Linked DNA regions of Homo sapiens: regions 1, 3, 4, 5, 6 and 7 are each linked to region 2. The links come from fine-mapping of genetic effects on gene expression. A gene starts in region 2. Each other region holds a variant in brackets. All regions are shown on one strand. Distances are from middle to middle. Region 1 has its middle 5.1 kb from the start of PRDM7. Region 2 holds the start of DEF8 (differentially expressed in FDCP 8 homolog). Region 3 overlaps PRDM7 (PR/SET domain 7). Region 4 has its middle 19 kb from the start of SNORA119. Region 5 overlaps DRC4 (dynein regulatory complex subunit 4). Region 6 has its middle 31 kb from the start of DBNDD1. Region 7 has its middle 26 kb from the start of SNORA119.

Region 1 (4,066 bases), 130 kb after region 2:
TCTATGGTGAGAGCATGTTTAACTTTAATATAAACTGCTGTATTGTTTTCTGAAGTTGCTGTATCATTATGCATTCCACTATCATTGAATGAGAGTTCCTGTTGCAACTTATTTTAATTTTATTTATTTATTTGTTTTTTTGAGAGAGAGTCTTGCTCTGTAGCCCAATCTGAGTGCAGTGGCATGAACATTGCTCACTGCTGCCTCTACCTCCCAGGCTCAAGCAATTCTCCCACCTCAGCTGGGATTACAGGCATGTGCCACCAGGGCTGGCTAATTTTTTTTTTAATTTTTGTTAAAGATGAGGGTCTCACTATGTTGCCCAGGCTGGTCTTGAACTTCTGGTTTCAGTTGATCCTCCTGACTTTGCTTCCCAAACTGATGGGATTACAGGCATGAGCCACTGTGCCCCGCCTCCTGTTGTAATTTTTATTGCATTAAAAAAAGATTTTAGTCAGTTTAGTAGATGCTCAGTGGTATACCATTGTTGCATTAATTTGCTTTTCCCTCTTGACAAGTGCCATGAGCGTTCTTTTGGATGCTTGTTTGCTGTCTTATATCATTTTTAGTGAGGTGTCTACCTTTTAATTGTGTTGTGTTCTTGTTGAGCATTAGAATTTCTTTGTATATTTTGCATATAAGTCCTTTTCAGGTTTGTTTTATAAATATTTTCTCTCAGTCTGTGGCTTTGTTTTTGATTCTTGTAACAGGATGTTTCACAGAGTAGACATTTCAAATTTTAATAAAGTCCACATTATCAATTTCTTTTTCTTTTATGGACTAGCTTTTGCTATTGTATCTAAAAGTTTATCACCAACCCAAATCCATGTAGGTTTTCTTCTATAACTTTTACTATTTTATATTTGGAAATTTAAGTCTATAGATTATCTTGAGTGATTTTTTGGCTGACCCGTGAAGTTTGTGTCTTTGTTCATTCCCCCACTATGGTTTCTGTTGTGCTGTCACCACTTGTGGAACAGACTTTTCTTTCCCCATTGAATTGCGTTTGCCCCATGACAAAATCAGTTAACTGTATTTATTCGGGTCTTTTGGGTTCTCTATTGTGTTCCATTTATCTTTTTGCTTATTCCGTCACCAATATCACTCTTCATTACTTTAGCTTTGTGGTAAAGATAACAATAGTAAGTTATTGTTTCTAAACGAGGACTATCTGCATTTATTTATATATTTTTTATTCCTCTCAACCATGATTCAGTTTCCTGAATGCATATTTGTTTGTCTTTTGTTAGATTTATACTCAATGAATTGAAATTTTAAAGAATATCATTTACAATAGCACACCCAAAATTTAATTCATTAAATTCAAATTATTCCTATACATTATTGGTGATATAAAAAAATCAGCTAGGGCTGGGCGCGGAGGTTCTCGCCTGTAATCCCAGCGCTTGGGTGGCTGAGGCGGGAGGATTGCTTGATCCTTGGAGGCGGAGGCTGCAGTGAGCCAAGGTCATGCCACTGCCTCTCCAGCCTGGGCTACAGAGCAAGCCTCCGTCTCTAAAATAAGAAAGAGAAAAAGAAAAAGAAAATCCATTGACCTTTGTCTACTGGCCATCTATTTTACTTGTTAAAAATCTCCATGCGTTCTGATCAAGGCATGTGATGGTGGGCTCGATTTCAGTTGAAATTTCCAAAATCATGGCCCGGAGTAATCTGGAGGCTGAATTTCAGAGATTCCCGAGGGCTGCCGCGAGGGGGCGCCCAGCCCCTGCTAAACCCGAGCGCTGCGCGCTTGAGCCGTATCTGATCCGCAAGGCGGCGTTGCGGGGCGTTTACCGTGAGGACAGAGCTTCCTCCCTCAGGACGCGGCTGGGAGAGGCTGCGGCCTCGGGAGACATGGGGACACTTGGGGCCGCGTCCACAGTGAGACAGGGAGACGCTGCTGCAGCTTCGGGACACCTGGGGCCGCCCAGGC[G/T]AAGATGAGGAAAAAGCTTCCTGTTGCCGTTGAGTGTAGCGGCGGGAGCGCGGCCGTGTTTCCCTGTCCGCCGTTTGTAGCAGGACCTCACTTTATATTAATAAAAGCGTCCCCTCATGAGGGCTTGGGCTGGTCACCCCCAGCGCAGGCCAAGATGCAGGTTATGGATGTGAGTTTGTTTCTGGGGAGAGACCCTGGTACCGGGAGAGGAGACGCGGTCAGGAGGCTGGGGACGGGAAGGCGCCACAGCCTGAGGCCGAGAAAACAGGCGCCCCCGGATCAGTGCTCGTTTTTTTTGGTTTGGTGTGTGTGTGTGTGTGTGTGCGTGTGCGCGTGCGCGTGCGTGTGTGTGTGTGTTTTGAGACCGAGTTTCGCTCTTGTTGCCCAGGCTGGAGTGCAGTGGCGCCATCTCGGCTCACTGCAACCTCCGCCTCCCAGGTTCAAGCGAGTCTACTGCCTCAGCCTTCCGAATAGCTGGAATTACAGGGACCCGCCACCACGCCCAGCTAAGTTTTTGTATTTTTAGTAGAGATGGGGTTTCACTATGTTGGCCAGGCTGGTGTCAAACTCCTGACCTCAAGTGATCCACCTGCCTTGGCTTCCCAAAGTGCTGGGATTGCAGGCAGGCCTGAGCCACCATGCCCTGCTGCTTTTTTTTTCTAAATTAAAAAAAATTTTAGGCTGTCTTTGCTTTGATAAAATACATAGGAGTATTTTGTGTGAAGTTGCTGTAACTGCTGGGGAATCTAAGAGAAGGGATAAGTTAAACTTTGCTATTGCAATAATCCTAGAAGAAGGAAATTATTGTAAATTATAAACAACCACATTAATACCTTGTCAGTAAAGCAGAGACATCAAACTTCATTATAGAGGCCAAACCAATCCAAATCCAGGTCAGTGGAAGCTGTGTACCAAGCGCCCTGCTGTCATGTCAGTATTGCGGCTGTCATATCAGTATTACAGGTGTCATATGAGTCTTAGGGGTGTCATAGTAGTACTGTGAGTGTCATCAATATTGCGGGTGTCTTGTCTGTATCGTGGGCGTCATATCACTGTTGCAGGTGTCCCATCAGTCTTATGGGCATCATATCAGCCTTATGGGTGTCATATCATTATTAAGGGTGTCATATGAGTCTTAGGAGTGTCATGAATCTTGCGGGCTTCACATCAGTTTTAAGGGTGCCATAGCAGTCTTGCCGGTATCATCTCCATTGTGAACGTCACAGCAGTGTTGTGGGTGTCATATCAGTATTACGATATGCCATGATATGTTATACCAGTATGACACCTCTTCTGAAAACAGTCATACCTAGACATAGTGCTTTGTTTGTTTGTTTGTTTGTTTGTTTGTTTGTTTTGAGACGGAGTCTCGCTGTGTCGCCCAGGCTGGAGTGCAGTGGTGTGGTGGAGTGGTGTGATCTCTGCTCACTGCAAGCTCCACCTCCCGGGTTCATGCCATTCTCCTGCCTCAGCCTCCTGAGTAGCTGAGACTGTAGTCTCAGCCACCATGCCCGGCTAATTTTTTGGCATTTTTAGTAGAGACGGGGTTTCACTGTGTGAGCCGGGATGGTCTTGATCTCCTGACCTCATGATCTGCCCGCCTCGGCCTCCCAAAGTGCTGGGACTACAGGCCGGGAGGCGGAGGTTGCAGTGAGCCGAGGTTGCACCACTGCACTGCACTCTGGGTGACAGAGCGAGACTCTGTTTTGGGGGAAAAAAAAAACTCATACATGGAAAATTCCAAAACATTGCTGAAATAAATTCAAGAAAACTTTTGGCGGAAATTCACAAGCTGATCCTATCATTTATATGAAATTTCAAGGGATGCAGAATAACCAACATAGTGTCAAAGAAACCAACTCAGAGGCTCACATTTCCAAATTTCAAATCTTACTACAAAGCAACATTAATAAAAACAACATGATTTTGGCATCATCAATGGAATAGATCAATGGAACTGAATTCTGAGTCCAGAAATAAACCCATACTCCTATGAGCAATTGTTTTATTTTTTGAGGCAGGGCCTCACTCTGTCTCCCAGGCTGGAGTGCAGTGGCACAATCATGACTCACTACAACCTCTATTTCGTGGGCTCAAGTGATCCTCCCACCTCAAACCTCCCAAGTAGCTGGG
Region 2 (4,066 bases):
CCTACGGCTCTTTGCTTCTGGTGGTTGGGGCTGGGGGGCAGAAATAATAAAGAAAAATGTGCAAAACCGAAGACATCAGACAGTGACGAGTGATTAGGGAGAAGGTGAGTGAGTGAGGGGAAGGGCCCTGCCTCCCAGAGATCACTGAGGACTGCTGAGCAGAGGCAAGGAGGAGGTGTTGGGGTTACTGGGGAGGACTGCTCCACAGAGGCTCAGCCAGGCAGGGGCCCCGGTGGGGGTGGGCCTGGCTTGTTGGGGAGACGAGCCAGGAGGTGAAGGTGGGGGTGGGGGTGGGCCTGGCCTGTTGGGGAGAGGAGCCAGGAGGTGAAGGTGGGGGCCGACTTCTTCCCAGGGTCCCTCTCACTGCCAGGCTGAGGATGTACTGTGGGGCCCAGGTGGGAGCTGAGATGGGGAAGGCCTTTCCAGAAGGAGGAGCTGGGAGAGAGGCCAGGTGGACGTGGAATCTCTAGGACTGGGGACCTTGAAGCAGCAGATAGAGCGGCGGCTCAGGGCAGTCTCCCTCCAGGTCTGAGTGCATGGAGGGACACGGCGTCCGAAGCCACCCTAAGCTGGGGTGGAATCTCACTGCACCCTTTCTGAGCGATGTGGCCTTGGGGGGGCCGATGGAGTTGCCTGTCCTGTAGGTGACTGCTGGCCCCCAGGCTTCCGTAGGGTTAAATGAGATGGTGTTGGCAACACGCCCCCCAAAACCTGGCCATAAACTGGTCCCAAAACTGGCCATAAACAAAATCTCTGCAGCACTGTGACATGTTCATGACGGCCATGACGCCCACGCTGGAAGGTCGTGGGTTTACCAGAATGAGGGCAAGGAACACCTGGCCCACCCAGGGCGGAAAACTGCTTAAAGGCATTCTTAAGCCACAAACAATAGCGTGAGCGATCTGTGCCTTAAGGACATGCTCCTGCTGCAGGTAACTAGCCAGACCCATCCCTTTATCTTGGCCCATCCCTTCGTTTCCCATAAGGGATACTTTTAGTTAGTCTAATATCTACAGAAACAATGCTTATCACTGGTTTGCCGTTAATAAATACGTGGGTAAGTCTCTGTTCGAGGCTGTCAGCTCTGAAGGCTGTGAGACCCCTGATTTCCCACTCCACACCTCTCTATCTCTGTGTGTGTGTGTCTTTAGTTCCTCTAGCGCTGCCGGGTTAGGGTCTCCCCGACCGAGCTGGTCTCTGCAAGGTGGTGTGTGGCTCCCACTTGGGAGGCCTCCAGTTACTGGCACTGTCATCACCATGCCCACTGAACAAAGTGGACCAAGCCCCAGAGGCAGCCAAAACCACACCTTTCTGCAGGGAGGGTAAACTGAGCCCGCGAGCTCAGGGCAAGCGCACCAGGCGCATATGCTGGCCTTCATCTGTCCTCAGCTCCTCCCTGCGGGCACAAGCGGGGGCAGCTGAATCTTCCACGCGAGAAGCCTAAGAGTAGGGATACGGGGGCGGGGAGCAGCAGGCCTGCTCTGTGTGTAAACAACGGGAAAGCAGGAATAACGCCAGGGCCCGCGGACACCAGCTGCCTCCGAAGTCCCGCTGCCCGGCGCCTGCATGGAGCAGCCTCCTGAGCGCAGTGTGGCGCGTCCTCCTGTGTAAAGAGGGTAGAGCCGCGCCGGGTCCCTCCCTCTGCAGCCGTGAAGCCCCCGCGGGGCCCTGCAGGTGGCTGGCGGCACCTGCACACGGTGGTTCTCTGTTCCTTTTTCCTCCTCAACCACTGAGGTTAAAAAAAGTGTTAAAAGCCACCCTTTTTGTTTTTTTGAGACGGAGTCTCGCTCTGTCGCCCAGGCTGGAGTGCAGTGGTGCGATCTCGGCTCACTCCGAGCTCCGCCTCCCGGGTTCACGCCGTTCTCCCGCCTCAGCCTCCCGCGTAGCTGGGACTACAGGCGCCCGCCACCGCGCCCGGCTAATTTTTCGTATTTTTAGTGGAGACGGGGTTTCACCGTGTTAGCCAGGATGGTCTCGATCTCCTGACCTCGCGATCCGCCCGCCTCGGCCTCCCGAAGCGCTGGGATGACAGGCGTGAGCCGCCGCGCCCGCCCATTTTTTTTAAACGTGTTGGGGTTTGGGTTTCAGCCACAGGCCTTCTGCGATGAGAGGAAACCCAGGACGCGCAGCCCCAGGTCAGGCCCGCGGAACAGCCGGGCGGACTCCGGGGCTCGCAGACTCGCGACCCGCGTGCCATGAACCTCCGCGCCGGAGGCGGCAGCAGCGAGCGCGGGGCTGGATCCAGCGTAGCGGGGCGGCCGGGCGGATCCAGCGCAGCCGGGAGACAGATGCGAGGCGGCGGTCAGGTGAGCGGCGCGGGGCCGGCGGGGTCGGGGCCGGCGGGGACGGGGCCGGCGGGGACGGGGCCGGCGGGGACGGGGTCGGCGGGGTCGGGGCTGGGAGGGACGGGGCCGGCGGGGACGGGGTCGGCGGGGACGGGGCTGGGAGGGACGGGGCCGGCGGGGACGGGGCCGGCGGGGACGGGGCCGGCGGGGTCGGGGCTGGGAGGGACGGGGCCGGCGGGGACGGGGTCGGCGGGGTCGGGGCTGGGAGGGACGGGGCCGGCGGGGACGGGGCCGGCGGGGACGGGGCCGGCGAGGTCGGGGCCGGCGGGGACGGGGCTGGGAGGGCGGCCCGCCCGGCGCAGGGGCCTCGAGACCTCGGCCGCCCCACCCCGGGGACGCCGCCGCTGCTCCGGCGTCCACACCAGCTGCGTGCGGAGCACCCGGGCGGCTCAGGGGACCCGCGTGGCCGTGCCCCCGCCCTGGGCTGCTCCGAGCCTCAGTTTCCCCCTCGGTGGAACGGGTGGGTGGGAGAGACCTGCCCCCGAGGAGCCCGGGAGACCGGGCGAGCTCCCGCGGGTGTGGTGGGTGGGGAGGCACAGTGCTGGGGTGGCTTCTCCCTGCAGCAGGTGCCGAACCCACGGCCAGGCTTCCGTGGCCAGCAGCCCTAGAGGAATGGCCATCCTGTCCCTGCGAGCCCCTGGGCCCTGGCAGGCGATGCAGGTATGGGCAGACAGGACGCTGTTGACTCCGCACACCGGGGTGACTTCTCAGGTTCTCGGGGTGGCAGCTGCAGTGATGACACCGCTTCCTGGTGGTCACGCCGCGGGCAGGACGCGGGAGGCCAGGTCCGTGCATCCCGCGTGTCCTGAGCTTCGGCCCAGGGTCCCTCCGTGCCCCGGAACCCCGCCGGCTTTCTTCGGCTTCCTTTCATTGCTAAGTTGTGGGGTCCTCCCCGATGAGAGCAGTGGGCTCTAGAGGAGGGGCAGGGGGTGGCCAGACCTCTTGCTTTCACTCTTCCACTTCCTGCCCGCTCCTTTCTGAGGCCAAGTCCCACATCTGGGTGCAGAACTGGTGGGGTGAGCCTGGTGAGAGGGGCAGGCTGGCGTTCTGCTCAGAGTCGGCCACTGTGGCCGGCATCCCCAGGTCTGTGTGAGCAGAAGCTAAGGCTGCGAGGCCAGCGGCCTCCCCTCATTCATCCCCTGCCCGTGCGCCAGGCCTGGGGCTGGCACTGACTGTCAGTAAATAGGCAAATAAAAGATGCCTTTTTTCACAGCCCGGAGGAGAGCTGGTAGCCTAGAGTACAGCTGCTGGGCAGAACGGAGGTGTCCCTGCCAGCGTGCCTTCCTTGACGCTCCTCTGGCCATGTTTTAAACACCAGGAGGTTTCCAGCGGCTTCCCCAGGCGTAGCTCCTGCACCTTTTTCCTGGGCTGGTCACCATATGTGATGACAGTGCCAGTCTGTTCTGAGCAGCTCTGGGCTCCTGGCTTCACTGACATCATAAACAAGTCCTTAGCCCTTCCATCCACCCCAGAAAGTAGGTGTTCCCCCTGATTTATAGGCAAGACAATGGAGAACCAGAGTCTAAATCAGGGCTGATTTTTTTTTTTTTTTTGAGATGGAGTTTTGCTGTGTTGCCTAGGCTGGAGTGCAGTGGCACAATCTCGGCTCACTGCAACCTCCACCTCCCGTGTTCAAGTGATTCTCCTGCCTCAGCTTCCCAAGTAGCTGGATTACAGGCATGCACCACCATGCCCAGCTAATTTGTTTGTGTTTTTAGTAC
Region 3 (4,066 bases), 110 kb after region 2:
ACCTCTACTAGGGCAGTGGAGAGGAGGGGAAATGTGGGGTTGGAGCCCCAACACAGAGTCCCCACTGGGACACTGCCTATTGGAGCTATGCGAAAGGGGCCACCATCCTCCAGACCCACCAATAGCTTGCACCCTGTACCTGGAAAAGCCTCAGCTTCTCAATGCCAGCCCATGAGAGTGGCTCTGCCCAAGCTTCCCAAGGCCTTGGGAGCCCACCCCTTGCATGCCTGGATGTGGGACATGGAGTCAAAGGAGATTATTTTGGAACTTTAAGATTTAATGACTGCCCTGCTGGGTTTTGGGCTTGTATGAGGCCTGTAGCTCCCTTCTTTTGGGTGATTTCTCCATTTTGAAATGGGAATATTTATCCAGTGTTTGTACTCTCATTGTGTCTTGGAGGTACATAACTTGTTTTTGATTTTACAGGCTCATAGGTGGAAGGGATTTGCCTGTGTCAGATGAGACTTGGAACTTTGAACTTTTGAGTTAATGCTGAAACGAGTTAAGACTTTGAGGGACTGTTGGGAAGGCATGATTGTATTTTGCAATGGGAGACGGACATGAGATCTGGGGGGCAAGGGTTGAAATGATATGGTTTGGATCTGCGTCCCCATCAAGTCTCATGTTGAATTGTAATCCCCGGTGTTGGAGGTGAAGTGTGGTGGGAGGTGATTGAATCATGGGGGTGGATTTCTTATGAATGGTTTAGCACCATCCCCACTTGGTACTGCTTTCATGACAGCGAGTGAGTTTTCATGAGACCTGGTCATTTAGAAGTGTGAGACATCGCCCTCCTCACTCTCTCTTGCTCCTGCTCCCACCATGTGAGATGTCTCCCTCCCCTTTGCCTTCTGCCATAACTGGAAGCTTGCCAAGGCCTTCCTACAAGCAGAAGCCACTATGCTTCCTATACAGCAGAGCCATGAGCCAACTAAACCTCTTTTCTTTATAAATTACCCAGCCTCAGGTGTTTCTCTATAGCAATGTGAAAATGGAATAATACAGAGGGCTTATGATTTTATTTTTACTTCTCAGATTATGTTTTAGTAGAAGAAAAGAGCTAAGTGAGCCTGGTGCGGTGGCTCACACCTGTAATCCCAGCACTTTGGGAGGCTGAGATGGGTGAATCACGAGGTCAGGCATTCGAGACCAGCCTGGCCAACATGGTGAAATGCCATCTCTACTGAAAATACAAAAAATTAGCAGGGTGTGGTGGTGGGTGACTGTAATCCCAGCTACTCTGGAGGCTGAGGCAGGAGAATCACTGAATGTAGGAGACGGAGGTTGCAGTGACCTGAGATCACACCACTGCACTCCAGCCTGGGGAACAGAGTGAGACTCTGTCTCAGAAAAAAAAAAAGAAAAGGAAAGAGAGCTAAGTGTAGCTGTGGCAGGCCAGGTCTCACTAACACCAGCCTCCATTACAACTGTCTCAGCACTGACTGAGTAGTTAGGTTAAATATTAAAAGCTAATTGAACCAGTGCTCTTGTAGCAGGATGAGCCGCAGACGAAACCCCTCAGACACAGAGTTAAAGAAGGAAGCGGTTTATTCGGCCAGGAGCATCAGCAAGACTGCTGTCTCAAGAGCCGAGCTCCCCGAGTGAGCAATTCCTGTCCCTTTTAAGGGCTCACAACTCTAAGGGGGTCCACGTGAGAGGGTC[G/A]TGATCGATTGAGCAAGCAGGGGGTAGGTGACAGGGGCTGCATGCACCGATGGTCAGAGTGGAACAGAACAGACCGGGAAGTTTCACAATGTCTTTCTATAATCTATAGATAACATCAGTTGCTAGGTCAGGGGTCGAATTTTAACTACCAGGCTTAGGTCAGGCCGGCCCAGGCCTGGTTTCGGGTCTGGTTCCTTGGTTTCAGGTCTGGTTCCTAGGCGCCAGGCTACCTGCCTTTAGTTTTGCTTCTTTTTCCTTTTCTGAGTATAAAACAATATAAAACAGTATGAGAGGGTCTGTCTCTCTTCTCTCAGAGTATTCAATTTCCTTAGGATTTTGAGCGTTATTCCTAATACACCCTTGAAACCCCCACACTCACACAGATACGTACACAGAGGGCACATACCCCCACACCCATGCATGCAGGCTTAACACACATAGCACACGTGAACACATATATACACACATGCGTGTTCCTGTCTGGCGTTCACTTCTGGGGCTACAGAGATTGGAGGAAATCAGGAGAGGAGACAGGGGGAGCCAAGGGGGAGTATGGCAGCAGAGGAGAGGGGTCCATTAGAAGAGGTCACACTTCCCAGGAGACCAGGGAGCTCTCTTTCCTGCTGCGACTCTGTAAAACCCTACATTTCTCTTCCTGGACTTGGGAATCGATTCTCCAATAATTAAACCAGATGGACTCCAAGTTTATGTCTTTCTGGGGTTGAATTCCTGTGGAGACTTGAACTGAACGTTTGAGTTCTCTGTGGCCCTTCTGGACTCTTCCTTCCTTCAGTGATAAGGGAAGAATGAGGTACACACTTGGGGTTCAGATATGTATGGAGACAAAATTAATTAGAACAGGAGGCAAAACACAAAAAATGGAGGGGATCAGTGCGGGAAACAACCACACATGTTGACGTCCCCCGAACACTTACAGAACTATCCCCTGTTCTTCCTCAACTCTAGTCATGAAAGTGGCGGATTTGTTTAATTAGTTATTTCCGATCTCTTTACACTCTCGGGGAATGTAAGGGGTTAGCAGACTTTCGCTGAAGCCACCTCAGAGCTGGGGTGTGCAAGTGTGTGGTGATCACGTTTGTCTTCTTGTGGCTATTGAGATAAGGTTTTATTACTAATGACTTACTCATCCTTCCTGCAGACTGGGGCGTCTCCCCTGTGTGTCCTCTGGTGAATGAGGAGGACTGACTTCCGGCTAAAGCCCCGCTCACACTCTCTGCAGACATAAGGCTTCTCCCCTGTGTGTGTCCTCTGGTGACTGAGGAGGTCTGACTTCCGGCTAAAGCCCTCCCACACTCTCTGCAGACGTAGGGCTTCCCCCCTGTGTGTGTCCTTTGGTGTGTAATAACATCTGACTTATCACTGAAACCTTGCCCACACTCTCCATATTTGACTTTCGCAATTCTTGAGATTCCTACCCCCACAAATAATTTGCCTGTGTTCCCTGGATTCACTTTCTGGCCTGTTCTGGACTCTTCTTCCATCATTCTTTCTCCCACTCTAGAGCTCCCCATTTGTCCTTTGGGTGGGCTAGAAAAGGCCCTTGAAATCTCCCTCTGCCATGTCCTTTTATTCAAGAGTTTGGACCTTTCTTTGATCTCTTGACCTTTGGTTTTGTCATTACAGCAGCGTGGATCAGAATATTGCCGCTCCTGATTCTGATCCCCTGGGCAGGGATTCTCTGGTTGGAGAAGTTTTCTTGCAGATGGTCCTGGGAAGTTCTGAGAGGAGTGATTGCGTTCCACATGTTGACTGAGAAATTTTTGACTTGAAAAGGCCAGACAGCATGAGGGACATGGATGGATCTCTGGCTTTGGTTCTGAAAGAGGAAGTTTTTGGTCAGGGTAGATGTTTTGTTCAGGCCTTACTACATATGAAGGTATGAAGATCAAATGAAGAACCAGTCATTCTTCATATGTTAACAATGCAAGCTCTCTCCCACCAAGTGCTGGATGGACCTTTACAGTCCATTTTTCCATTCCACTTTTATTCACTACATCTTAAAAAATCCAGAAATCCCACATCTTGGGCCTTTTCTACGTATCAGCCAGACTCTGGGTAACCTCAAGCAGCATCAGGGGCAGCATCATTCCTTACATAGATGGAACTGCAGTGACCTTTCCCCCATGCCACAGGTATCTTCCAAGTCCTGTAAAGCCTTCCCTGATCACCTCTGCCACATGCTCCCTCCCTGGGCCCTGGGCACTTTTGCGACGCGAGGTTTTCAGCTATTTTATTCTATTGAGAAATAACACTCTTGATGACTTAGGTGAGATTGTCCTTAGTGACTTCCTAAGAGGGGAAAAGGATCTATTAGGAGCACTCAGCCTGGAGATCCACAAATGTGGTTAAAGAGATGTGTTAGCAAATCTGAATTTGAGTATCC
Region 4 (4,066 bases), 24 kb after region 2:
ACTCTTGTACTTCTTTTTTTTCTTTTTTTTTTTTGAGACGGAGTTTCACTCCTGTTGTCCAGGATGGAGTGCAATGGCGCGATCTCGGCTCACCACAACCTCCGCCTCCCAGGTTCAAGCAATTCTCCTGCTTTAGCCTCCCGAGTAGCTGGGATTACAGGCCTGCACCACCACGCCCGGCTAAATTTGTATTTTTAATAGAGACGGGGTTTCTCCATGTTGAGGCTGGTCTCGAACTCCTGACCTCAGGTGATCCGCCCGTCTCGGCCTCCCAAAGTGCTGGGATTACAGGCGTGAGCCACCGCGCCTGGCCTGAAGGTATTCTACTCTTAGTTATCAGAAAGGTCGCTCAAATTTACAGAGTGGCATGACGCACTGTCTAGTATGAGCAGTGCTTTGTTGGTGAGATTATTTTGGGCACTGTATTTTTCAACGGCAAAAAAAGTAAGTGAACCATTCATGAAAGATGCTCCTGGTCACCCAAGCCTTTCTGTTGGAGCGCCAAATCACGGGCAAACTGGGCTTCAAGAACCCTTCAGAGCCTTGCGGGTTTCTGAGCGGTACACCAGTAAGGGCTTCAACTTAAAGTCCCCAGCTGCACTGCCACCAAGCAGCAGCATCAAGCGATCTTTGGATGACTTAAACCCTGGCTCAGCATTCTCTTCCTCGGAAATAAACGTTCCTTTGGGCATTCTCTTCCAATCAAGTCTCGTCTCATCTACGTTAAAGACACCTGGGGGGTGTACTCACCTTCTTCGATGATGCTTTTCAGCATTTCTGTGTACATGTCCTTGTTGCTGGGAGCTGCGCTGTTCATCTTGAAGTGGGGCAAACAGTGGCACTCCTTGAATCTCACAAGCCACCCTTGACTTGCATGAAACCTCTCCGTTTGAGAACCTTCGCCATGTTCACGCTGTAAGTCATCAAACTCAGCCTTCTCCTGAACGATGGCGGCGCTCAAGGTCGCATTTGGCTGGCTCTGGTCTTCCAGCCACAAGCTCAGCAGCTGCTCCATGCTCTCCATCACTGCACTTCGATGGCGAGTCAACCGAGAGGCTCTCAGAGGAGTAGCTATTTGTGAACTCGCTTTGATTTTTTCTTTACTATCTCGAATGGTCGCCACTGTAGAGATAGCAAGATCTAAGGCCTTTGCGATCTGACTGAGCTTCTCACCCGCTTCAAATCGTCGTAACACTTCCAATTTGAGGTCAAGGGTAATCGCTTTCCGTTCCCTTTTGGCACTAGGGATGACAGTTGCATCTGTGGGCCTTTCCCCAGGCATTTCTGCCTCCAAAATGTCAGAAAATCACAGCGGTCTCAAGCGCAAGAACGCTGTGGTTCCTCTACGTCCCCTTGCAGAACTCGGTCAACAGAAAACGAGGCTGCGAAGAGGCTCAGGCTGATGTCCTGGAGACGTGGACGGGTCCCCATGGGCAGGCCCAGCCCCACTGCCTAGCCCAGCTGCTGCTTCACTGTCCACTCCGAGGAGGCCGCGCGGGTCTCCCGGTACCGCTCGAAGTCCGCGTGTTGGGGCCGTGCGGCCGCAGGCACATACAAGCGGCCTGGGTCCTGGGGCTCCAGAGAACAACCGACCAAGCAGACAAACGGAACTCCGTGAGGGGGACACTGCGGCAGAAACGTCCAGGGGCGGTTTTCCAGTGCAGCGGAGGGCGGACCGGGCGGGTGTTGTTTCGGGAGCTGCTTTCCATGGAGGACCCCAGAAATAAGTGTTGATGCCGATGCCCGATTTAAGATAAGTCTAAAGGCGCTGGCTATCCCCTTAGGGCCCAGCTGTCTGGGCAGGGCGAGGCTGCGCTGGCGATCAAACCCTCGAACGGTCAGGCGACGGCGTGGACACCCAAGACGGGGCCCCAGCCGGCGCCGCGCCCCTGCCGCGCCTGCGCGAGTCCTCCCTGCGCTCGCGGGGCCCTAGGACCGCTCTCCCATTGCGCATGCGCGCGCCCGGGCGGCGCGGGATCTGGGTCTGGGGATGTGGTACCGGCTGCTGGCGGCGGCCGGCAGTAGAGCGGTGGCCAGGCCGCTGGCCTTGCTGTGGCGATGTGGTGGCCCAGGAGGCGGCAGGACGGCCAAGACCAGCGCGAGGGCCCTGGGCAAGGCCCGACAGGTGAGCGGGGAGGCGCTCTCCGCCGGTGCCGGGCGGCTGGTCTGCTCTGGACGCCGCGTGACGCCATTCGCCTGCGCCGGCCG[C/T]GGGGGAGCGCGGGAGGGCGGCGGCCCTGACCTGGTCCGCGCAGTGAGGCCGACAGCACCTGGCCAGAGCTTCCCGCCCCCCCGCCTCCTCCGTCTCCAAACTCCTGCTCTTCTCCTCGCTACCTCTTCCACCCACTTCTTGCGGAATTCCCGCTGTTTACTGGATGCCCGGTCCCCTCGGACATCGGAACCGGGACCTCCAGCCTCCTTGCTCGGCTTTGTAAAGCGCCGGGCGTTGAGCGATTTGCGCTTGAGTCCCACCTCCTCGCGAACCAGCTTTGTGGCCCCGCGTGCCAGCCCGTGTCCTCCTGGGCTCGGCGGCGTTCGGCTTTATCCACCTCGCAGTTACTCAGTGAACCAGACACGATAAGAGGCGTGAAAGGGTTTTGCAAACTGTTCTTTATACAGCGACCAGTCACTGTCGTTAACAGCTAATGCTGAGAGCTAAGGGCTTTACGCGGATTATCTAAGTCTTATACCCGCCCTATAGGTAGATATCGCTATAACCCTATTGTTATTTATTATATTATTTTTAAAAATTTGGGAGCGGGGCCGGAGTCTCGCTGTGTTGTCTAGGCTGATCTCGAACTCATGGGCACAAGCGATTCTCCTTTCTCAACCTCTGGAGTAGCTGGGACTACAGGCTTGAGCCACCGTGCCCTGCTCATAACCCTGTTTTATAGGGTTAGGGTCTAAGACCGGAATATTCTGCATTTTAAGATTGCTTTATTTTTGTATTGATACATCCCAGTGAGCAGCAGTAACGTTGAATTGTTTTTCTAATGCAGAGTTTTTGAATTTTGATCCCAGAAAGCTGTCATGGTTTTCAGACAGCAGTAAAATAAGAAGAAGGATCCCATGAGTATTTCTGTCCTGTCTTCAGGAATGAACTCCCCCCCCCCCCCGCCATCTCCATTCATTTGGGAAAGTGTATGATGGTTTAGTTGCTAGCAATATGAGTGAAAGCAGTCTTTCAGCTTTGGCCATGTGGCATCAGCATTGCAGAGGTCCTCCTGGTTGCTAACACATATTGAAAGTCAGCGATATGCAATATCGGTGTGTACAGCCTAATATAGCCCAGGAGAGTTTTGAATCATTGAACTGCTATAGACCCCTTTATGAAGGGAGGACGGACGTTGAATGATCTTTGAGTTCCTTCCCGGACTGGATCATTCATCTGCTTCTCATTTATTAGAGATAGATCTGTTAATCATTTACCAGGGAATATCTTGGTGAACACGACAGGCAAGGGCTCTGCCCCACTGGCTTGCTCTCTTTTGAGAGCTTTATGACTTGTGGACTGAGGGTGACATGCAGAGGTTGGAGAGGTGGCAGCAATTTGCATTTTTTTTTTTTTTTTGAGACGGAGTTTCCCTCTTGCCCATGCTGGAGTGCAATGGCGCAATCTTGGCTCACTGCAACCTCCGGCTCCCAGGTTCAAAGCGATTCTCCTGCCTCAGCCTCCCGAGAAGCTGGGATTACAGGCGCATACCACCATTCCCGGCTAATTTTGTATTTTTAGTAGAGACGGCTGGGCACGATGGCTCACGCCTGTAATCCCAGCACTTTGGGAGGCTGAGGCGGGCAGATCACCTAAGGTGGGGAGTTCGAGACCAGCCTGACTGATGTGGAGAAACCCCGTCTCTACTAAAATACAAAATTAGCCCGGTGTGGTGGCACGCACCTGTAATCCCAGCTACTTGGGAGGCTGAGGCAGGAGAATCGCTTAGAACCTGGGAGGCGGAGGTGGCAGTGAGCCAAGGTCGCACCATTGCACTCCAGCCTGGGAGTGAGACTCTGTCTCAAAAAAAAAAAAAAAGAAACAAAACAAAAAACACCCTAACAGCTCTCCTCATGG
Region 5 (4,066 bases), 85 kb after region 2:
GCAGCTGGAGGAGAAGAAGGCTGAGCTGCGGAACAAAGACCGGGAGATGGAAGAAGCCGAGGAGAGGCACCAGGTGGAGATCAAGGTGAGTGGGGCCGGCCTGCACGTGCTAACCTGGTCACCACAGAGCCCCAGAGGAGCTGGATCCAGTGAGGGTGCAGGTGGGACATTTTCTGTTCTTGGCTTTGGGAGTCACAGCCTTAAAGGTGTTTTTTATAAAAGCCTGAGGGAGAGACCCTGCAGGTCCTGAGGGTTTAAAATGCTGCCTCCACAACATGGAAGGAATATGGGCTCTGGGGGCAGACTGGCCTGTTTGCAACTCAGCTCTGCCACTTAATACCCCATGAGCTGGGGATGCACCTCACCTCCCAGCCTTGGTGTCCTGCTCTGTGCCTCAAGTGTACAGGTTTGCATAGGTGAACAGGCATGTGTAGCTGTGTAAAGGTGAGGCATGCAAGTGAGCAGGTGGATGCAAGTGAGCATGTGTGTGCAGGTGAGGAGGCGTGGCCAGGTGAGGAGGTATGTGCAGGTGAGGTGTGGGGAGGTGAGCACGTGGGGCAGGTATGTGCAGGTGAGCAGGTAGGTGCAAGTGACCAGGTGTCTACAGGTATGTACAGGTGAGGAGGTGTAGTACAGGTGTAGTGCAGGCGACCAGGTGTGTACGGGAATTTACAGGTGAGGAGGTGTACAGGTGACCAGGTGTGTACAGGTATGGACAGGTGAGAAGGTGTGGTACAGGTGTGGTGCAGGTGAGCAGGGGGGTACAGGTATGTACAGGTGAGGTGTGTTACAGGTACGGTGCAGGTGATCAGGTGTATACAGGAATGTACAAGTGAGGAGGTGTGGTACAGGTGACCAGGTGTGTACAGGTATGGACAGGTGAGGAGGTGTGGTACAGGTGTGGTGTGGGTGAGCAGGAGTGTACAGGTATGTACAGGTGAGGAGGTGTGGTACAGGTGACCAGGTGTGTACGGGTACGGACAGGTGAGGAGGTGTGGTACAGGTGTGGTATGGGTGACCAGGTGTGTACAGGTATGGACAGGTGAGGAGGTGTGGTACAGGTGACCAGGTGTGTACGGGTACGGACAGGTGAGGAGGTGTGGTGCAGGTGTGGTATGGGTGACCAGGTGTGTACAGGTATGGATGGACAGGTAAGGAGGTGTGGTACAGGTGACCAGGTGTGTACAGGTATGGACAGGTGAGGAGGTGTGGTACAGGTGTGCTATGGGTGACCAGGTGTGCACAGGTACGGAAAGGTGAGGAGGTGTGGTGCAGGTGAGCAGATGGTACTCCCATTGCCCTGCAGGTGTACAAGCAGAAAGTGAAGCACCTGCTATATGAGCACCAGAACAACCTGACAGAGATGAAGGCTGAGGGCACTGTAGTCATGAAGCTGGCACAGAAAGAGCACCGCATACAGGAGAGTGTGCTGCGCAAGGACATGCGGGCACTGAAGGTGGAGCTCAAGGAGCAGGAGCTGGCCAGTGAGGTGGTGGTGAAGAACCTGCGGCTGGTAGGTGTGGCGGGGGCACCTGGAGGCTGACAGGTTGTTGGGACGGCAAGCCTAGTGCTGCATGAACTCCTGTTTATTCAACAGCAACTGGGAATTCATATTTCTGCATAAGACTTTCTGCATTTTTGCAATTTGTTGAAAAAAAATTTTTTAAAGCATGCATCCAAACAAACCCCATTTTGGGACCAAGTACACAATTCTGTCTCAGACCTGAGCAAAAAATTGACGTCACCGAAGAGAAAAAATCCAGCTTAGGATCTTTCATGTGCTGCTGACACCTGACACCCAGAGACTTTTCCTAGGGAATAGCATCATATGCATTTAGTAGAATGCAAACCAACCATTAAAATATCCAGTGTGTTGACTCCTGGGCACTGTGACAGTTTGTCACACAAGCTGGTCTGATTTTTACTTTTGAGGCTGGGGGTTTCCAGGGCACCATTAAAATTCATCTGTGCACCTGGTTCAGTGGC[TCA/T]CACCCAAAATCCCAGCACTTGGGAGGGTCAGGTGGGAGAAGTGGTTGAGGCCAATAGTTTGAGACTAGCTTGGGTGAAATAGTTGAACCCCATGTCTAAAAAATTTAAAAGAAAACATTAGCTGGTGTAGTGGCACATGCCGATAGTTTCAGCTACTTGGGAGGCTGAGGCGGGAGGATCCCTTGAGCTCAGGAAGTCAAGGCTGTGGTGAGCTAGGATTGTGCCACTGCATTCCAGCCTAGGTGACAGAGTGAGACAAAACAAAAAGGAAAGAGATCATTTGCTGAGTGTCCATTAGCTGCTAGGTCCTGATCTGATCTCTGACAAAACGCCTGCCCGACTGGGGCTGTTGGTCTAGAAAGGAGAGACAACAGGTGAGTTGGAAGACAAAATAAACGTGCCAGATACAACAGAGTATCTGGTGGGGAAGAGTGCCATAGAAGGATCGAAGTGGGGAGAGGTGGGGTGCGGTTTTGTACAAGCAGTTGACCGGCTGGGAGACGGGATGGGCCAGTGGGAAAGCTCAGAGTGACCAGGAGGAGACTGTGGGAGAGGGTCAGAGCTTGTCCGCCTCGAAAGCCGTGGTGGGGACTGGAGACGGGTCAGAGCTCGTCCGCCTCGAAAGCCGTGGTGGGGACTGGGACTTTGACCCTGGTGGAGTCTGTTGCCCTCTGAGAACTTGGGCAGAGGAGAGATGTGTCTCACTAAGGTTCTTCCTGGCTGCTGGGTTGAGGAGACTTTCTGAACACATTTGCCTCACGCCTGGAAGCAGTCCAGCCTCCACTGAATCTGGAAGAAACTTGGTGACGTTGCTGACTTCGCAGCAAAGCCTGAGAGTGCCGAAGTCTTGAGCCCTCCAGAATTAGCTGGTCTTAACCCAGGTCCTGGATATGATATTGTTACATAATCAGAGTTTCCTGTTGGGTAAAAATATGGCTTTAGGCCGGGTGCGGTGGCTCACGCCTGTAATCCCAGCACTTTGGGAGGCCGAGGAGGGTGTATCACGAGGTCAGGAGTTTGAGACCAGCCTGACCAACGTGGTGAAACCCCGTCTCTACTAAAAATACAAAAATTAGCCGGGCGTGGTGGCGCACACCTATAATCCCAGCTACTCGGGACGCTGAGGCAGAAGAATCACTTGAACCTGGGAGACGGAGGTTGCGGTGAGCCGAGATTGTGCCACTGCACTCCAGCCTGGGCGACAGTGTGAGAGTCTGTCTCAAAAAAAAGAAAAATTACTGCTTTAAAAATAATTTATTTTTTTATGCAAATTTTAAATATATAATGTTTATTTAAATATATAATAATTGTTCATTAAAACTATATATTTATTTATTTTTAGAGATGAGGTCTCACTCTGTCTCCCGGGCTGCAGTGCAATGGTACAATCATAGCTCACTGCAGCCTCGAACTTCTAGTCTCAAGTGATCCTTCTGCCTTAGCCTCCCAAGTAGCTGGAACTATAGATATGAGCCACCACACCCACCTAATCTTTTTTTTTTTTTTTTTTTTTTTTTTTTGAGATGGAGTTTTGCTCTTGTTGCCCAGGCTGGAGTGCAGTGGCACAATCTCAGTTCACCACAACCTCTGCCTCCCGGGTTCAAGCTATTCTCCTGCCTCAGCCTCTCGACTAGCTGGGATTACAGGCATGTGCCACCATGCCCGGCTAATTTTGTATTTTTAGTAGAGACGGGGTTTCTCCATGTTGGTCAGGCTGGTCTTAAACTCCCGACCTCAGGTGGTCTGTCCAGCTCGGCCTCCCAAAGTGCTGGGATTACAGGCGTGAGCCACTGTGCCCGGCAATCTTTAAATTTTCTGTAGAAGATCTTGCTATGTTGCTTAGGCTGCCCTTGAACTCTTGACCTCAAGTGATCCTCCTGCCTTGGCCTCCAGCGTGCTGGGATGACAGGAATGAATCCTTTTAATATGCTGCTTCAGGCAGCAGTGCAGCAGGTTGGAAGCTACACACGGCACCTGGAAAGATCCCACAGCTCTGTGTGGATGTGGCTGCTGCTCTTCAGGCTGTGGGATGGTTTGGCGATGGAACCAAGCGGGTTCAGTGCTCACGACGTCTGTT
Region 6 (4,066 bases), 40 kb after region 2:
CTGAATTGGAAACTGAACCGAGAGAGAGTACAAATCCAGTACCAGCTTTAGCCAGGAGGGTGTAAAAATTGGAATCGTAGTGGTGTGGGCGGTTTCTTTGAGACGTATGTTTAAGCACAGAGTAGGGGCTGCAGTGGGGTGAGAGAAGGTGAGGCAGGTAGAATTCTGGAGATTCTCTCTCAGATTCTAGTGGCAGGGCCCGAAGTGCCTGTGGTCTCCTGCTGGATGGAGCTCCCGGATGTCATCTGGGTGCTGTTTATTGCTGACTTGGGTTCTGTCTTTGCTTGTTGAGTTGCCAGGATGCCTGGTTGTATGTGGGGCTGAAAGTGAGTGTGGAGCCGCTGGAGGAGGGATGGCCTCGAGCCTTGGAAGAGCAAGAGCAAAGACAAAAATAAACCAGGCGGACATTTGGTGTCTTCCTGTGACAAAACAACCCAGTTGGCCCTAGATGTGAGGAGGCCTTGCTGGGTCTGCTGGCGGCACCTCCCGGGGGAGACACTGTGGTGTAAGCTCCAGCAGGGCTGCTTGGCCAGGTGGAGGAGGTGGAGGAGGTGGAGGAGGTGGAGGAGGTGGAGGAGGTGGAGGAGGTGGTGGGTGGTCACTCTCCCTGCCCCACCAAGCCAGCCACAGGTTCCATCAGGGAGATAGAAATGCCTGTGACTAGAGCCTTCAGAATTGGAGAGGCCTCGTGCTTGATGGACTTTGACACATTTAAAAGAAAGAGGCCGGGTGCGGTGGCTCACGCCTGTAATCCCAGCACTTTGGGAGGCCAAGGCGGGCGGATCATGAGGTCAGGAGACCGACACCATCCTGGCTAACATGGTGAAACCCCGTCTCTACTAAAAATACAAAAAATTAGCCGGGCGTGGTGGCGGGCGCCTGTAGTCCCAGCTACTCGGGAGGCTGAGGCAGGAGAATGGTGTGAACCTGGGAGGCGGAGCTTGCAGCGAGCCGAGATCTCGCCACTGCACTCCAGCCTGGGCGACAGAGTGAGACTCCTTCTCAAAAAAAAAAAAAAAAAGAGGCCGAGGGCCGGGCGTGATGGCTCACAGAGGTAATCCCAGTGCTTTGGGAGGCTGAGGAGGGAGGATCACCTGAGACTAGGAGTTCGAGACCAGCTGGGCAACATAGTGAGACTGCGTATCTATAAAAAGTTAAAAAATTATCTGTTGTGGTGGCATGCATGCCTGTGGTTCTAGCTACTCAGGAGGTTGAGGCAGGAGAATCTCTTGAGCCTGGGAGTTCAAGGTTACTGTGATCATGCCACTGCCCACCAGCCTGGGTGACAGTGAGACCCTCTCTCAAAAAAAGGAAAAAACCCTGCTACCTTTTGTGTAGCAACACAAAGTCCTAGAGCGGTCTCCTCTAAGAGACAGAGTTTTGCTTTGTCATCCAGGCTGGAGTGTAGTTGTGTAGTCATGGCTCACTGCAGACTTGAACTCCCAGGCACAAGCAATCCTCTTACCTCAGCCTCCTGAGGAGCTGGAACTACAGGCACACGCCACCATGCCCAACTAATTTTTGTATTTTTACTAGAGACAGGGTTTCACCAGGTTGTTTAGGCTGGTCTCGAACTCCTTACCTCAGGTGATCCACCTGCCTTGGCCTCCCATAGTGCTGGGATTACAGGTGTGAGCCGCCACACCCGGTCATTTTTATAAATTTTTTTAGAGACGGAGTCTTGCCACGTTGCCCAGGCTGGTCTTGAACTTCTGGGCTCAAGAGATCCTCTCACCGTGGCTTCCCAAAGTGCTGGGATTACAGACGTGACTCACCGTGCCTGGCATGAAGGTGCTATTTCTGACCTCCTGAGTGTGACAAGTAGTTCTCTTGGATTTTCCAGCTCTTTCTTGTGAAGTCTGGTGCCCACCCTTCTCCTGGTTGGCATTCTCGTCTATGCTGCCAGGAGGGGCCTTATGGGATCCAGGCGCAGTAGACGAGGAGGGGGCCTCTTCGGTGTTGGTGAGACAGCAGCCAAGATCTTAAAAAGCAACATCGATGTGTTATTTGCAGACGTAGCTGGGTGCGAAGAATCAAATTGGAAATTATGGAATTTGTGAATTTCCTGAAGAATCCCAAGCAGTATCAGGACTTAGGAGCAAAAATTC[CA/C]AAGGTATTGATTTTGGAAAACATAGTAATACTCTGAGCTCCACATAGATGGCTGTGGGTCAGAGTCGGTTCTTACTCCTGTTTTATTAATTTAATATTAATTACATAGAACAACAGGTACAACTTGTATGAACAGGCTTGGGATCAGATGTAGTTGCCTCTTGGTAAGCCCGTGACCCAGCCAGCGGCTAGGTGTGTGCAGCCAGACGGCGGCTACGTGTGTGCGGGCAGTCAGCCAGCGCGTTGCAGGTGGTGTGGGTCAGGGTGCTGGATCTGGCTGCTGGGCACACAGAGCAAGTTTATCTCTTCGTGCCATTTTGGGGTCATGACTCTTTGGGGGCCTGAGAGAAGCCATGGATTTTTTTTCCCAGAAATATTTGCATTCACAGAAACTCGATTCACACACCCTTTTAACTCACCTCTGGGCTTTGGACCAGGCTGACATCCAGATCCTTGCAGTGGCCTTGCACCCCCACCCCCCAGCACCTCCCGATGGGGTGGGCATTCACTGGGCAGTTTGTTCCAAACAACAAATAATGATTATACCAAGCACCGGGAACCTGGGGCGGAGCCAGAAGGTGACAGACCTGTTTTCCACTTTGATGAGCATGAGGCTGGGAAGCAGGTGTGTGTGACAGATGTGCAGAGCCTGGGGCCTTCTGCTCCTGTTGGAGCTCCACTGGCAGCTGCCATTCACCTCAGCTCATAGTCAGGTGCTGCAGTGGGTGGTTCTCTTTGCCTTTCAGAATTTTTTTTTTTTTTTTTTTTTGAGACGGAGTCTCGCTCTGTGGCCCAGGCGGGAGTGCAGTGGCGCAATCTCGGCTCACTGCAACCTCCACCTCCCGGGTTCACGCCATTCTCCTGCCTCAGCCTCCCGAGTAGCTGGGACTACAGGCGCCCACCATCACGCCCGGCTAATTTTTTTTGTATTTTTAGTAGAGACGGGGTTTCACCGTGTTAGCCAGGATGGTCTCGATCTCCTGACCTCGTGATCCGCCCGCCTCGGCCTCCCAAAGTGCTGGGATTACAAGCGTGAGCCACCGCGCCCGGCCTTTTTTTTTTTGGAGACAGAGTCTTGCTCTGTTGCCCAGGCTGGAGTGCAGTGGTGCGATCTTGGTTCACTGCAACCTCCACCTCCCGGGTTCAAGCTATTCTCCTGCCTCAGCCTCCTGAGAAGCTGGAATTAACAGTTGTGTATCACCACGCCCAGCTAATTTTTGTAATTTTAGTAGAGACAGGATTTCACCATGTTGGCCAGGCTGGTCTCAAACTCCTGACTTCAGGTGATCCACCTGCCTTAGCCTCCCAAAGTGCTGAGATTACAGGTGTGAGCGATCGCATCCTTTTTTTTTTTTTAATTTATATCTATTGCTGCTGAACAAATTACAGTTTTTTTTTCATATGCATGTATTTGCTGGGGAAAATCTGTATGATGGAGTGGGTGAGGCAGTCAGGTACCAAGAAAGGCCCCTCACGTGGTGTGTTGGTCCCCCTTTCCCAGCAGGCAGGGGCTCCTGCGAGAGGGGGCTCTGTCAGCTTCTGTGTTACATCACAGGCCTCGTGCTCTGCTGTGGATGTCAGGAAAGAGTTAGTGGGGTCAGGGCCCATCTAGGTTTCCCGTTCTTGGGTATGAGGTACAGTGATTTCCCAGAATTACCTCTGCCTGTGGCATCCCCCATGAGAATCCATCATGAAGAGCTGGCTGTGTGTGCGGCCATGGTGGGTGCCTCTCCTGGAGCACATGGGTAGGACGGAGTGTGCTGTGGGCAAGTCTGGCCCCCTCCTGCCCTGCAGCTCCTTAGCCATCCCTAATGGGATTCTTCTTAGTCAATCTCAGAAGTCACCAGTTTAAGCAGCTCTCTCACCTGTGTATCATCTGCTCCCCTGTTAAGAGCCCGATGTCACCATTCTGTTTCAGGGAGCCATGCTCACTGGTCCTCCTGGTACCGGCAAGACC
Region 7 (4,066 bases), 31 kb after region 2:
CAGTCTTGTTTTTGAAGCTGCAATATTTCAAGTTACTAAATAAATTGCCTCAGTTTCTAAGCCGTGTTTTTTGTTTTTTGGGGGAGTTTTTTCTTGCTGTTGGAGGCTATAGCTATAAACATTTGCAGTGCATTTCTGCAGTGAGCTTGCTCCTGTTTACTCTATTGAATCATATTTCTAATGGGGTATTTAAGGCGATAAGCTCACACCTCACCCTGCTTGCTCCAGTGGTTATGGCCAGTGAGAATGTGCGGTGTTGCATTGCAGAAGAAGCTAGGAAAGCTCATCTGGCCTCCTGTTCCAGTGCTTCCAGGGGATCCACGTTCAGAAGCTGACTCTGCAGGCAAGACCGACGTTATTTTCCTGGTGGCTGTGTTCAAAACCACCCAAAGGTACCTGTCTTTCATCCACCATCATTAACAGCATGAGGTTTACAGGAACTGAGTGGCTTCCTCAGAGTGTGACTTCTACAGTGAGTGACCAGGGGGCGAGGGTCCAGACAACTCAGGGCACACCCCACTCCACCCCGCCCCATCCTACCCCTTCCTGGCTTCCATATCGAGCCACACAACATCCAGCACCTTCTCCATGTCTTTATGGTGTTGATATCTCACTAAAGCTGGTGAGAGAAAAGCTCTTTCCAAAGGAAGGTGCTAGATGAATCTTTTGGAAGGTATGGGAACAAACCTTGGTTTCTGCGTATCTGACTCTGAGGACCAGCTAAGCCTCATGTTTGGAAAGCAGAACAGAAACAATGTGCAGACTGGCATTACCTCAGAGCACACTTGCCCACTTGGAGTCCTTCTGTAGGCCATGGACCTGTGCTTTGTGCTTTGTGTCCAGGGACAGTGTTCACTGAAGCCCCTGGAGACCCTGTGTCTCCACAGAGTAGAAGGTGCTCCCTGCACTTCCCTCAGTGTTAGGACCTGAGGGCTCATGCCGATTGTATGAAGCAAGAAGAGAGGCAGGAGGAGGGAAAACTGGCGTCTCTCTCACTTTCTCTATATCGTCTTGACAGTACGGTTGCTTTTCTTGGTGTGATTCTGTCTTCTAAAATATTAGAACCAGGCTGGGCGCCACCGTCTGTAATCCCAGCACTTTGGGAGGCCGAGGCGGGCAGATCACCTGAGGTCAAGAGTTCGAGACCAGCTGGGCAACACGGTGAAACCCCGTCTCTACCAAAAATACAAAATTTAGCTGGGTGTAGTGGCGGGTGCCTGTAATCCTAGCTACTCAGGAGGCTGAGGCAGGAGAGTCACTTGAACCCGGAAGGCGGAGGTTGCAGTGAGCCGAGATCGTGCCACTGCACTCCAGCCTGGGTGACAAAGTGAGACTCTGTCTCAAAAAAAAAGAAAAAAAAAAAAAAGAAATACTAGAACCTCATCATTTTGTCCCTCAGGGTTTGAGAAATACTTTAAGAGGAGTGGAAGGAACACAAACTGAGAAACATCAACAGCACCAAAAAAAGGTAAAAGGGCCAGTTTGAAAAATCAGACTGTGAAGTTTTACAGTTGAGTACTTTTAAAGCATTCACTGAATGGGCTGATCTCCTTGGGAACTGATAAGCAGGTGGGCCTGTGAGTGTGTGATGGTGACATCGTCTTCCCTGAGCTTGCTCCTGGGCGGTACCCATCCTTCCCAGGTCACCAGCACCTTCTCAACCGGTTTAGATCCTAAGCCTCGACAAATCATTTAAAAATTATATCATGGTGTGATGGTGTGGACTGGGTTTTGGGATTGGCGAAGTCAGTATTTTGTGTTTCCCCTGTGAAATGTCTCCTGCTTGTGTACCGGTGAGCATGGGGTGAAGAAACACGTAAGTCATATTGGGAGGTGTGGTGACTTGCCTTGCTACGAAAGGAATGTTT[CTT/C]TTTTTTTTTTTTTGAGACAGAGTCTCACTCTGTCACCCAGGCTGGAGTGCAGTGGCACAATCTCGGCTCACTGCAAGCTCTGCCTCCTGGGTTCACGCCATTCTCCTCCTTCTCCTGCCTCAGCCTCCCGAGTAGCTGGGACTACAGCCGCCCGCCACCATGCCCGGGTAATTTTTTTGTATTTTTAGTAGAGACGGGTTTTCACCGTGTTAGCCAGGATGGTCTCGATATCCTGACCTCGTGATCTGCCCGCCTGGGCCTCCCAAAGGGCTGGGATTACAGGCATGAGCCACTGCACCCGGCCAAGGAATGTTTCTTTGAAGACTCATGTTTGTCCTTAAAATTTTGCAAATTTTTACTCCATCTTGTAATATGTTTGCCATTCCTGGGGTCACCTTGGCCTTCTCTGGCCTTTCATGGTGTTATTTTGCAGCTGTTGGAGTAGCACTGTATTTGTGAAGTGGACAGTGTCATGGCTTACTTGTTCTGGAACTTGTCCTGGAACATTACAGGAAGAGGCTGGTAGGTCCGTGGGACACAAATATACGTAGGAGGCCAGATTTTTTGGAGGAGAGGCAGACTCTGCTTAGAACAGGTGGTTTGTGTTCCCTGGTTCTCTTGAGAAGGGGGACCACCCATACCAGTCTGTCTTAACATTTTCTTCCTTTCTTTCTTTCCCCTAATAACAGCCAGTTTTGGGACTGTTACCCCAAAAAAGTTTACTATTAAAGCTCAATATGAAGCCAGCGAGGTGAAATTTTAGGGATTTTAGATGTATCTGAAGCTACTTCTCAGCAATATCTCCCCAGCCTCATCCTTTTCCTGTTGTCTCTTTATTTCCAGAAGGCACTGGTGTTATTAAAATTGTGTGTTGGAAGGTGTTTTTCTGTTTTCTGAATCTTCTTTCTCTGGAAAATCATATGTAATTGCTTTGTGAAGTCTTACTTTGTTTTCTCTCAGAGACTGGTGAACTAGAGAATGCTGAGTCTGGAGGAGACGGAGGCAGGAGAGGAGGGAAGCAGGATAACGTTGCCTGGTGGAGGCGGATGCAGAAGGTTTGTGTGCATCTTAGTCTGCGCCTGCTGCTGTAACAATACATCAGACTGGGTAATTTATAAACAGGGTACATTTACTGCTCACAGTTGTGGAGGCTGGAGGTACAAGATCATAGCCTGGACAACATGAACGCTGTCTCCACAAAAAATACAAAAATAAGCCAGGCGTGGTGGTGCGTGCCTGTAGTCCCAGTTACTCAGGAGGCTCAGGCGGGAGGATTGCATGAAGCTGGGAGTCGAGGCTGCGGTGAGCCGTGATCACACCACTGCACTCCAACCTGGGCAACAGATTGTGAGGGCACCAATCCCATTCGGGAAGGCAGAGCCCTTGGGACCTAATCCCCTCCCAGGGGCCCCATCTCTTAATACCTTCACCTTAGGGATTGAGTTCCAACATGGAAATTTTGGGGGAACACATAAATTTAAACCCATATCAATCTTTCTGCTTGTTTAAAGGTGAACTGTTGAATTAGTTCATAAGTTTCAAAGAAATTAGTTTCTAAAAATGTACTGAGGCCGGGTGCAGTGGGTCATGCCTGTAATCCCAGCACTTTGGGAGGTGGGAGGATTGCCTGAGCCTAGGAGTTTGACACCAGCCTTGGCAACATAGTGAAACCTTGTCTCTACAAAAAAAAAAAAAAAAAAAAAAAGCCAGGCATGGTGGTGTGTACCTCTGGTCCCAGGTACTCAGGATTGCTTGAGCCCGAGAGGTTGAGGCTGCAGTAAACCATGATCGTGCGACTGCACTCCAGCCTGGGTGACCAAGTAAGACCTTGTCTCCAAAAAAAAAAAAATTAAAAAAAAATAAAAATGTGCTGAGATTTCTATCTGGATTTTATTATTATTATTATTTTTGAGATAGGGTCTCACTGTGTCATCCAGGCTGGAGTGCAGTGATACGATCACTGCTTACTGTAGCCTTGACTTCCCAGGCTCAGATGATTCTCCCACCTCAGCCTCTAGAGCAGCTGAGACCACAGGCTTGCACCACCACTCCTGGCTAATTTTTTTTTAAATTTTTTGTGGACATGGGGTCACCCACCGTTGCCCAGGCTGGTCTCGAACTCCTGGGCTCAAGCAGTCCTCTCACCTTGGCCTCCTTTAGTGCTGGGACTACAGAGCTGAGTCACCACGCCTGGC

Evidence for each region.
Region 1: its variant is fine-mapped to the expression of DEF8 in whole blood (TOPMed, PIP above 0.99).
Region 3: its variant is fine-mapped to the expression of DEF8 in spinal cord (GTEx, PIP 0.92).
Region 4: its variant is fine-mapped to the expression of DEF8 in whole blood (TOPMed, PIP above 0.99).
Region 5: its variant is fine-mapped to the expression of DEF8 in whole blood (TOPMed, PIP above 0.99).
Region 6: its variant is fine-mapped to the expression of DEF8 in testis (GTEx, PIP 0.92).
Region 7: its variant is fine-mapped to the expression of DEF8 in whole blood (INTERVAL, PIP above 0.99).

What each region holds. Positions count from the first base shown.
Region 1 is chr16:90,080,380-90,084,445 of GRCh38, forward strand. No RefSeq gene overlaps it. Among named protein-coding and RNA genes, the nearest start is that of PRDM7, 5.1 kb to the left of the region's middle. RefSeq lists enhancers at 1,525-2,180, 1,979-2,108, 2,181-2,835. The variant G/T (reference allele first, on the strand shown) is at 1,934.
Region 2 is chr16:89,946,509-89,950,574 of GRCh38, forward strand. It overlaps DEF8 (differentially expressed in FDCP 8 homolog), which reads left to right and starts at 2,247. Exons shown (of 13, transcript NM_001242818.2): 1 at 2,247-2,306; 2 at 2,909-3,005. RefSeq lists an enhancer at 1,257-1,596 and a silencer at 2,277-2,376.
Region 3 is chr16:90,055,036-90,059,101 of GRCh38, forward strand. It overlaps PRDM7 (PR/SET domain 7), which reads right to left. Exons shown (of 11, transcript NM_001098173.2): 11 at 1,531-3,499. The coding sequence ends at 3,254. Among named protein-coding and RNA genes, the nearest start is that of PRDM7, 20 kb to the right of the region's middle. RefSeq lists enhancers at 2,410-3,609, 3,010-3,059. The variant G/A (reference allele first, on the strand shown) is at 1,663.
Region 4 is chr16:89,970,641-89,974,706 of GRCh38, forward strand. It overlaps the pseudogene CENPBD1P and the pseudogene AFG3L1P. Among named protein-coding and RNA genes, the nearest start is that of SNORA119, 19 kb to the left of the region's middle. RefSeq lists enhancers at 1,618-1,677, 1,988-2,971 and a silencer at 1,818-2,297. The variant C/T (reference allele first, on the strand shown) is at 2,209.
Region 5 is chr16:90,031,412-90,035,477 of GRCh38, forward strand. It overlaps DRC4 (dynein regulatory complex subunit 4), which reads left to right. Exons shown (of 11, transcript NM_001481.3): 3 at 1-85; 4 at 1,307-1,513. Among named protein-coding and RNA genes, the nearest start is that of GAS8-AS1, 3.5 kb to the left of the region's middle. The variant TCA/T (reference allele first, on the strand shown) is at 1,987.
Region 6 is chr16:89,986,839-89,990,904 of GRCh38, forward strand. It overlaps the pseudogene AFG3L1P. Among named protein-coding and RNA genes, the nearest start is that of DBNDD1, 31 kb to the right of the region's middle. RefSeq lists a silencer at 1,538-1,712. The variant CA/C (reference allele first, on the strand shown) is at 2,109.
Region 7 is chr16:89,977,411-89,981,476 of GRCh38, forward strand. It overlaps the pseudogene AFG3L1P. Among named protein-coding and RNA genes, the nearest start is that of SNORA119, 26 kb to the left of the region's middle. The variant CTT/C (reference allele first, on the strand shown) is at 1,869.